Linked DNA regions of Homo sapiens: region 2 is linked to region 1. Evidence: fine-mapped expression QTL. A gene starts in region 1. The other region holds a variant in brackets. All regions are shown on one strand. Distances are from middle to middle.

The links. PIP is the estimated chance that this variant, and not a neighbour inherited with it, causes the effect.
Region 2: its variant is the best candidate, but not a certain one, in a credible set for the expression of MCM2 in subcutaneous fat (TwinsUK, PIP 0.56).

The regions. Positions count from the first base shown.
Region 1 is chr3:127,595,745-127,601,119 of GRCh38, forward strand. It overlaps MCM2 (minichromosome maintenance complex component 2), which reads left to right and starts at 2,667. Exons shown (of 16, transcript NM_004526.4): 1 at 2,667-2,728; 2 at 3,574-3,803. The coding sequence starts at 2,723. It also overlaps a transcript of TPRA1 not described here. RefSeq lists enhancers at 2,345-3,302, 2,656-2,775 and a silencer at 2,806-2,965.
Region 2 is chr3:127,850,426-127,855,800 of GRCh38, forward strand. LOC107986129 (a long non-coding RNA gene) reads right to left here. Exons shown (of 5, transcript XR_001740896.2): 4 at 3,644-3,810. The region is part of intron 1 of LOC105374096 (a long non-coding RNA gene); the gene reads left to right. Among named protein-coding and RNA genes, the nearest start is that of MGLL, 31 kb to the left of the region's middle. The variant A/T (reference allele first, on the strand shown) is at 2,949.

The DNA.
Region 1 (5,375 bases):
CTTGTATGGCCTCTCTCTCTTGTTCGCTTGCTCTGAAAGAAACCAGCTGCCAGGTTGTAAGCTGCTCTGTAGAGAGGCCCCCACCCAAGAGCCAGTGGGAAACTAAGTCTTCAGTCCAACAGCCTATGAGGACCTGAATCCTATCATGTGAAGAAGCTTGGAAGGGGATCCTCCTGAAGATGAGCCTTCAGAGGAGACAGCAGCCCTGGCCAATACCTTGCCTGCAGCCTTGAAAGACCTTGAAGAAGAGGCACCCAGTGGCATCGTGTCCAGATCCCTGATCCACAGACACCGAGACAGTGGGTGCTAATTGCTTCAAGGTGCTAAATCCCAGGATAATTTTTTTTTTTTTGAGATAGAGTTTCGCTCTTTTTGCCCAGGCTGGAGTGCAATGGCACAATTTCGGCTCACCGCAACCTCCACCTCCAGTGTTCAAGTGATTCTCCTGCCTCAGCCTCCTGAGTAGTTGGGATTACAGGCATGCGCCACTACGCCTGGCTAATTTTGGATTTTTAATAGAGACAGGGTTTCTCCATGTTGGTCAGGCTGGTCTTGAACTCCTGACCTCAGGTGATCCACCTGCCTCAGCCTCCCAAAGTGCTGGGATTACAGGTGTGAGCCACCATGCCTGGCCATCCCAGGATAATTTTTTATGCAGCAATAGATAACACAAGCCCATGCAGAGTCTCTTCAGCTTTCCTGTCAGCAGCTCCTAGCATCCGAGGTGCATCCTTCACATCCTTTGTTGGTGTCTCTTAACTGTTGGGGTTTCCCAGGTCCCAGGCTTAGACCTTCTCATCTCCCTGCACTCACTCTGGATTATACAACCACTCCCAAGGCAATCTACAGCTTCAGTCCAAACACGCCCTTGAGTCCCATACATGGATATCCAACAGCTTCCTGGATATGTCCCCTCGGCCCAAATTCAGCACAGCCAGAAACAAACTCATCTTCTTCCCCCTTAAATTGCTGGTCTTCCTGTGCGCTCCTATCTCAGCTATCATCCACCTAGCTAAGCCAGGATCCTGGTGTCATCCTGCATGCCTCTTTTGCTGTCCTCAATCACCAACACCTATAGACCCCACTTCCTGGCCGGGCGTGGTGGCTCACGCCTGTAATCCTAGCACTATGGGAGGCCAAGGCAGGCGGATCCACTTGTCAGGAGTTGGAGACCAGCCTAGCTAACAATGGTGAAATCCCATCTCTACTAAAAATACAAAAATTAACCGGGCACAATGGCGTGCATCTCTAATCCCAGCTACTCGGGAGGCTAAGGCACGAGAATCGCTTGAACTTGGGAGGTGGAGGTTGCAGTGAGCTGAGGTTGCACCACTGCACTCCAGCCTGGGTGACAGAGTGACTCTGTCTCAAAAAAAAAAAAAAGATTCCACCTCCTAAACATCTTGTATTTCCAGTTCTCTCCATCACTCCTGCCTCCCTACCCTGGGTCCCAGGCAGAGATGCTTGTTCACTGCACAAAGTGCCTGGCTAAGAGGGTTGCGATTCAGCCCTGCCTCTGCTCACTAAGGCTGCCTGGAACTAGACAAGAACCACAGCAACCTCCTCGTTTGCTGCCTTCAACCTCGTTCAATCCACTTCCACCTGGTAGCAGCCAGAGGGATTCTAAAACCCACACTAGTTCACGTCTCACCCTGCTCAAAATGCTTCCATGGCCTTCCATTGCTTTCAGAATACAGAATAGTCAAACTCTCTAGAAAAACATCTAGCTCTTTTTTGATCCGGATTTTCTCTCCCTCAAGTCTTGTCTGTTGCCCGGCATCATAAGCTCCTAGGGTTAGTTCTTAGGGAGGGGCTTGCACATCCGGGCCCTGCCATGACCTCTGCAGCTTTGCACATGGCATCCTTCTATCTGTAACATCCTCCCTGCGTCTTCGCTCCCCTGGGCAAAGATAACTCCTACTAAAGCCTCAGATGTGACCTCCTACAAAATCCCAGAGTTGTCCAGCTGCTTGAAGTATTGAGCCTTTGAGCTTTGGGAGAAGTTAAACCATTGTGCTCCTAAGACGGTAAGAAGCGTCAGAAAACCAGGCTCTGAACCTCTGCTGTCTTTTTTTTTTTTTGAGACGGAGTCTCACTCTGTCACCCAGGCTGGAGTGCAGTGGCGGGATCTCGGCTCACCGCAACCTCCACCTCCCAGGTTCAAGCGATTCTTCTGCCTCAGCCTCCCGAGTAGCTGGGATTACAGGCCCGTGCCACCATGCCCAACTAATTTTTGTATTTTTAGTAAAGACTGGGTTTCACCATGTTAGTCAGGCTGGTCTCGAACTCCTGAGCTTGTGATCCGCCCACCTCGGCTTCCCAAAGTGCTGGGATTACAGGCGTGAGCCACCGCGCCCGGCCTCTGTTGTCTTGTCAGCAAAATGGCCCTGGTGTGACCGAGGTCACGCAGCCAGCAAGTGTCGTCGGGTCCCCTGGAGCCTCAGCTTCTACCTCCGCTCCAGCTCCCACCACAGCGCAGGCGAGCGCACGCGCACAGCGCCGGGCCGCACACCTCCGGGCTCTGGGCGGAGCGCCTCGGGCGTTGTAGGCGGGACCGGACCCTCTGGCCCGCCCCTCCGTGTCCCTTCTGGTCGCCAGTGGACGCCGACGTCATGACGTCGCGTTCCGTAGGGCTCTTCCCGGGCTTTGGTGGGTCACGTGAACCACTTTTCGCGCGAAACCTGGTTGTTGCTGTAGTGGCGGAGAGGATCGTGGTACTGCTATGGCGGTGAGCGCGCTGGCGCGTGGCGGGCGGGCGCCGGGGACATGGGTGCGGAGGCTGCGCGCTTCCCGTACTCTGGCCCCGGCCCAGGGCGGCGCTCTGGGTGAGGCTGGGCCCCAGGCTCTGGGGCGCAGCTACTTTCTCGCCTGCACCCTGCGTGAGGCGACTCGCCTACCTACCACTGACCTGGGGCCCTGGGCTCCCTAAGGCGAGCTCGGCCCGTTCAGCCTCTGTCCTTTATTCACCCCACACATACTTATTGGGCGCCATCTGTGTGGCGCTGAGCGTACAAAAGACAGGCCCCCATTTCACTACACTCCTTTAAACTTTTTTTTTTTTTAATTTCCCAATGATCCTTGTTCCAAACACTACACTTACTTTTGTATTACCTTCTTGTCCCTTTGTCTTGTATACTGTCTGTTCCACATCTGAGTTCCAGACCTCTTGTTTTGGTGGCTCTTCTATGCCATCTCTATCACAATACCTTGCGCACTGTGTGTGCTGAAATAGGTCTAATGCTTAAGGGGAGATAATAGACAGTAAACAGGTAAATAGGCAAATGACATAACCTCAGTGGTTTTTCATGGAGAAAGCACGGTGATGTGGGTGACCCCGATATTTGAGCTGGCTTCTATTTGTTTGGAAGCCACTGACTCAGATTGCTCAGCTGAGAGCATTCCAGGTGAGAGAACAGCAAGGGCAAAGATCTGGAGGCTGGAAGGGGTTTGGTGTGTTGGAGGACAAGAGTCACAGGTGGAGAGAAAGAAGGGAAGGCCCCTGATGGTAAAAAGGAAGCTGTATCATGCCTCACCAGCTTCCTAGGTTTCTGACAACCGCACCTTCTCTTGCAGGAATCATCGGAATCCTTCACCATGGCATCCAGCCCGGCCCAGCGTCGGCGAGGCAATGATCCTCTCACCTCCAGCCCTGGCCGAAGCTCCCGGCGTACTGATGCCCTCACCTCCAGCCCTGGCCGTGACCTTCCACCATTTGAGGATGAGTCCGAGGGGCTCCTAGGCACAGAGGGGCCCCTGGAGGAAGAAGAGGATGGAGAGGAGCTCATTGGAGATGGCATGGAAAGGTAATTTCATTCAAGGCCCTGGACTCAGCAGATAGTTTTGCAGAGAGCCCATTGTGTGCCTGGTGGCCTGGCTTTGGGAGCTGGGAGCAGATGAATCGATGGCATTCTTGCCTTTGAGCACAGCTTGATCCAGGGTTCTGAGGAGACAGGTTTACAGAGCCATGACACAGGTCTCTTTAACTTACTGCATGTAACTTGGAAAGACTAGACCCTAAGCTGAGGATAAGCCCCGACTCCATAAGCACCCCAGAGAATGTAGGGGTCTCTAATCTGGAATACTCCAACTCAAAAAGACAGGAAGCAGGAAGCCCAGTGTTTCCCAGTAACTTTTCAAAGGAAAGGTGCATGGGGGAGGAGGGATCTGATAAATAAAGTTTTAGAGTCAATCAGCAAACATTTATTGTACCTAATGTGCACCATGCCCTTTGTTAGGAATGGTCTTGTTTATTAGTAAACATGTGGTGGCTCACACCTGTAATCCCAGCACTTTGGGAGGCCGAGGTGGGCGGATCACCTGAGGTCAGGAGTTTGAAACCAGCCTGGTCAACAGGGTGAAACCCCGTCTCTGCTAAAAATACAAAAAATTAGCTGTGCATGGTGGTGCGTGCTTGTAGTCCCAGCTACTTGGGAGGCTAAGGCAGGAGAATCACTTCAACCCAGGAGGCATAGGTTGCAGTGAGCTGAGATCACACCACTGCACTCCAGCCTGGGCGAAAAGAGTGAAACTCTGTTTCAAAAATAAATAAATAAATAAGTTAGCAAGACTTAATGCTAGGAGAGTGGAGTAAGCTCTGCGCATAAGCAAGGCTAGATTTCTACCCCTGCCTTACTCTGCATTTCCAGCTGCGATCTGGTAGATAACGTCAGTAGCGGAATTGTGTGAATGCCCAGGAGCCTCGTGGAGATGCTCCTTTTGTGCCTTTTCAGCCTTAGCATGTGTGAGAGTACTGTGCAGGGCATCCTGCCGTCCCTAGGATGTCAGACAGTTGAGAGGCTTTCAAGGGCACTCCAGACTGGATGCATCTTTGCTATTATCAGTACCACCCCCAACGATGAGACTGCATGTGCTGTAGGCTGTAGAAGGAATGAGGAGTCTGGATAAATCTGCCCTGGACTTGGGGTCAGGGCATGGGTCCTAGACGGCTTTCCTGTTCTGCCTGATGGAGTTGTTCAGGCCGGATGCCCCTCCTCTGCTGTTTCCCCTCCCTGTCTTGACCCTTTCTCTTTGCTTCTCTGAGAAGCAAAGAGAGAGGCCCTTGGCAGGGGGCTTCTGGGTAGAGGTATCTGAGGGATGGCTGAGCCCAATTACATTTGTTTTTGTGGTTTTTCAAAAAAAAAAAAAAAAACTTTATTGGGCTATAGTTTTTTAGAGTTTACCCCTTGCGAAAATATAATTCAATGCAAATTCATGGTAAATTTCCTGAGTTATGCAGCCTTCACCACAATCCAGTGTGAGAACAGGGCCGTTTTCCCATTGAGGTCCCTCCTGCCTGCTTATAGTTCATTCTCAGTTCTTACCCAACCCACAGGTAAGAATTAAAGACCTGTCTCTAGATTTTCCAATCTGGTCAT
Region 2 (5,375 bases), 250 kb after region 1:
ACTGCACTCAAGCCTGGGTGGCAGAGCGAGATTCCATCTCCAAAAAAAAAAAAAAGAGAAAGCCCAACAGATATTTGCTTTTCTTCTATTTTGACTGTCAGTTACTATGTGCACAGCACTTGGATAGAAACTACAATGCAAGAAAGGATTTAAAAGCCTGGTTTCTTGCAAAGAGGGAGGGCTCTTTGCATCTCTACCTCTACTGATACCTTAATGAAGTGATCAATCCTATTTCTTTTTTTTTTTTTTTTTTGAGACGGAGTCTTGGTCTGTCGCCCAGGCTGGAGTACATTGGCGTGATCTCAGCTCACTGCAACCTCCGCCTCCCAGGTTCAAGTGATTCTCTTGCCTCAGCCTCCTGACTAGATAGGATTACAGACGTGTGCCACCCCACCCGACTAATTTTTGTATTTTTAGTAAAGACAGGGTTTCACTATATTGGCCGGGCTGGTCTCGAACTCCTGACCTCAAGTGATCTGCCTGCCTCGGCCTCCCAAAGTGCTGGGATTACAGGTGTGAGCCAACGTGCCCAGCCAGAGCAATCCTAATTTGGGCAATAAAGGAGCAAAGAGGCATCATGTCCCACCTGTTGAGTTACACTGGGGGCAGAGGATCACTTCTCTGGTATTCTTTTCAAGAACCCAAATTTAATCACAAATAAGCTTCAGGAAAACTCAAATCCAGGACATTCTGGAAATCAACTAGCCTGGGCTCTAAAAATATTAATGTCACAAAACACATACACAGGTGCACATAAATGAAGGGGAACTATTCTAGCTTAAAGGAGATGAAGAAGCACAGCAAATGAAAGCCATCTTTGATTAGGTTATTGATCAAATAAATCTGTAAAGAATGCTGTTGGTACAATTGGGGAAATTTGAATATAAACTATATATTAAGCAATGCTGTGTATCAATAATGTTAAATTTGCTGAGTTTTGTGCAGGAGAATATCTCTTAAGAAATACATGTTGATGTATTTACAGGTAGAATATGATGACTGAAATTTAATTTCAAATGATGTTTTAAAATGTATATGTGTGTATGTGTGTGTATATGAAGAGAGAAAATTCTAAAACAAAATGTGATAGAATGTTAACAGTTGGTGAATTGACAGGTTATATCGTTTTTCATTGTATTATTCTTTTAACATTTGGGGTGTATTTGAAGTTTGTTAAAATAAAAGTTGTAGGAGAAAAAGATGATATGATGAAGGGAAAGAGTTTGAGTTTTCTGTAAGACGGTTAACTAGAGGCTATATATTCAAGAGGGCCTCTGGTCTGGCTGACCTATTGCTTCTTCCAGGACAGTGTAGAAAATAAAACATTTAGTTGCATATCCACATTTAAAAAAGAAAAAAGCAAGGGTCCCTTGCTCACTCAGGCCCAGGACTGTGGATGGGCCTTGGATGAAGCCAGGTGAAAAAGGGCTGTCAGCTTCACCCGCCCTTAGAGACAGCATCAGCTTTATCACTGGTGACAACGTGCAAAGGAAAGTTCAAAAGCTGAGGCAGAAAAGTAAGGGGGCAGCTGTCTTATAAAATACAGTAATACAAATACAGACACACAGCAGCCATAGAGCTGCTGATGACCAGGCTGGGCCTGCCGGCAGATGCTCGAGATTCACAGGTGGGCCTCGGGCTGCTCGAGGAGGGAGGAGCCGGCAGAGCCAAGGAACACAGAGGCCTCACAGGGGGTTAATCACTCCCTCCACCTGCCATATGGCCAGGGAAATCATCCACTCTCACGGAGCTGGATGGGAGCGGAAGCTGCTCCTGAACTTAATCAGAGGAGGGCTTTTGATTTCAGCATTAAACCGAAGGTGCTGGTAACATGGACTTGCCTGACCTGGTGACAGTGAGCCAACATGACCCAGAAGAGGACTCCGTTAAATATGTATATTAAGAGAACACAGATAAAAGCTTCCTGCTTTTATCTGGAGGACAGTGGGTGGTCAAAGAATTTTTCATTAAAAATATTTTTTTAGAATTTCCAGAATGTGACATATGTCCTAAGGGCAGTGCAGTGGAAACAGTTTCCCTAGATTCAAGGATGAGGAGGCATTGACAATGGAGACATTTTATATATATATATGTAAACATACACACACATATATACTCACATTATGTATGTATTTCACATTTATATATAGAATAAATGTATACTTAAGAAAATATATAAAATCAATATGTAATAAAACATGCTACATTTTCAGTGTGTATGTGCACACTTTGAGTTAGCGCATGTTTATTACTTACCTTTTAATCAAGAATGCATGCTAATGGAAGTTAATTCAGAGAACTCCCAGTTACAAGGTTGGCCCCCAGTGCTGGCAGATTCAGCTACATACATTCCTTGTAAGTGTGGAATCACGTAAGCACTCTCTGAACTCCTATTTCCAACCTGTCAATGGTCTGCACACAACACGTTCCTGCTTTTAAGCAGTAGATTCAAAATAAACAATGCTAACAGTGATTCTGCAGGGGAAGAAACAGAACTTGAATTACTTCAGTTCTGTTATTCTTTTATAGGTAACTTGAAGTTTTTATTTCTGTTTAAAATTTTTATTTATTTATTTATTTATTTGAGCTGGAGTCTCACTCTGTCACCCAGGCTGGAGTGCAGTGGTGCGATCTCAGCTCATTGCAACCTCTGCCTCCCCGGTTCAAGCGATTCTTCTCCTCAGCCTCCCAAGTAGCTGGGACTACAGATATGTGCCACCACGCCTGGCTAATTTTTGTATTTTTCATAGAGACGGGGTTTCACCATGTTGGCCAGGCTAGTCTCAAACTCCTGGCCTCAGGTGATCCGCCCAGCTATTTCTGTTTAAAATGTAAAACAATGAAACAGTGTGTGAACTGCAGTAAAATAATCCCCTTTAAAAATTATGATTAAAAAAATTAATCCATGACTTTTTACCTTTTTTTAACATATGTGCCAGCATGATTAC[A/T]TATACAAAGTTCAATAAAAAAATTTTCACTATCTACAGCAGTTCTTTTCTGGACATTATTATTATTCCTTTTGTTTAATGATCATTATTGAAAAGAATTCTGTTGTATGGAGGAAGGAAGCATTAAAAACCAATTCTTGACCAGGGGCAGTGGCTCATGCCAGTAATCCCCGCACTTTGGAAGGCCGAGGCAGGCGGTCCTGAAGTCGGTAGTTTCAGACCAGCCTGATCAACATAGAGAAACCCCATCTTTACTAAAAGTAGAAAATCAGCCAGGTGTGGTGGTGGGTTCCTGTAATCCCACCTACTCGGGTGGCTGAGGCAGGAGAATCACTTGAACCCGGGAGGTAGAGGTTGTGGTGAGCCGAGATCGAGCCACTGCACTCCGGCTTGGGCAACAAGAGCGAAACTCAGTGTCAAAAAGAGAAACAAAAAACAAAAACAAACCAACTGTCTGTAAGTGAATCACATGGTAGGTCCGCCAGGTGGAGACAGCAGATTGAGCAGTCTAGTCTGCTCCTTCCATGGCCCCTCGCTGGTGATGATAGAAGACTTGCTTTAAAGGAGAGGAAGCACGGCAGCACAGTCCTGGAAGCTGGAACGCAGAGGGAGCATGGAAATGACACACCTGGCAGCCCCAGGAAGACCAAGCCCTGAGCTGGCAATGGAGAAAGATGAAGCTCAGCCAGACTTACCCCACAGAATCCCCGGAAAGCCCAGGACTTCAAGGCACTCGATGTCTCTGGCAGTAGAGGTGACAAGGATGGTGACCTGGAGGCTGCAGGAAGGTTTGTTTAAGGAGAGGTCCAACACTCAGGCCCGCTCCCCACTCTGCATTTTTGGTGATTGTTCTTCTCCCAACCTAGCAGAAGACGAGAGATTTATTTTGGGGAGAGGATAAAAAGTGAGTCTTTTGCACCGGGAGCAGCAGCAGCACAGCTGAGGTCAGCGTTGTCATCCCAACACATCTAAGTAAAAGATTATATGTATTTTGGATGCTGAAGTCTCTAGCCATCTTTCCTAATCAGTTTTTGGACGTTTTCACCCTGAGGCCACAAACTGGAGGATCTTTCTGGATGGAATTTGAGGGATAGCACAGGGACTACCCCAGTGAGATGACCCAGCACAGCACGCTCCTGCCAAGCTCCAGGTTGGCAGGCCAGTCACGCCTGCAGTTTCCAATACGTGTGTTAGTATCCCACTCCTGGGTGTGTGGAGACGATGAGAGGAAAATCTCTAACACGAAAGGTGGGACTAGAATGGAGACGGATGTGGCCCAGGATATAGACAAACAGAGAATGGCAATTTGGAGAAGAGCTTTTCACAGGAAGCATTTTTTTTTTTAGAAAAGTCATTAATATCCCCAGGAAGATAAAAAAAGATATTGCAACCATGAAACACAGCAGAATGTAATAGAAATAAACATCAAGAGAACCAAAAAGAATTCTTGGGAATTAAAATCATGATTGCTGGAATGAAAAGCTCAAAAGAAGCTTTAGAAGATAAAAGGGCAGAAGGTAGACAGAAAGAGAAAGAGTTGGAAAATAAAGGAGAAAAGTTCAGAACCTGAAAGGACTGGTCCATGAGTCTCAGTATCCAAATAATAAGAGTTTCAGAAAAAGAGAACAGAGGAAGCCCAAAGATGGATGGGGACAGAGGGGGAGGAATCTGGCAACTAGAAGATGAGTGTCCACATTGAAAGGGCCCACCAAGTGCCCCACCAAGGCACATCATCATGCAACCTTAGGACGCTGGAGACAGACGCCCCACAAGAATGCGGAGACAGAGAAAGAGAAGATCAAGAACCAGAATGACAGAATGCATTTGTGTTCATTTCCCATTGCTGCTATTAAAAAAGAACTACACATTTTGTGGCTTAAAACAACGTGAGTTTATAAATTCTGGAGGTCAGAAATCCAAAATGAGTTTCACAAGGCTAAAAATCCAGGTGTTGGCTGTTCAGTGCCCCTTTCTGGAGGATCCAGGGGAAAATCTGTTTCTTGCCTTTTCTAGCTTCTACTGGCCACCAGCATTGGTTGGCTCATGGCCCCTCCCTCCATCTTCAGAGCCAGCAGGTTAACATTGTCATGTCTCTCTCCCTCTCCCCACCCTAGCCCTGGCTTCCATCCTCACACCTCCTTCTCTGACCCTCCTGCTTCTCTTATTAGGATCCTTGTGATCACATTGGGCTACCCAGATAGTCCAGAATAATCTCCCAATTCTGAAATCCTTAACTTAGTCCCATTTGCTAAGTCTCTTTTGTCATGTAAAGTAACATGATCACAGGTTCCAGAGATTATGACATAGGTATCTGTCTTAGTGACAAAGGAATACCTGAGCTGGGAAACTGGTAAAGGAAAGAGGTATATTTGGCTCATGGTTCTGCATTCTGCACAGGAAGCACGGTGCCAGCATCTGCTCCTGGGG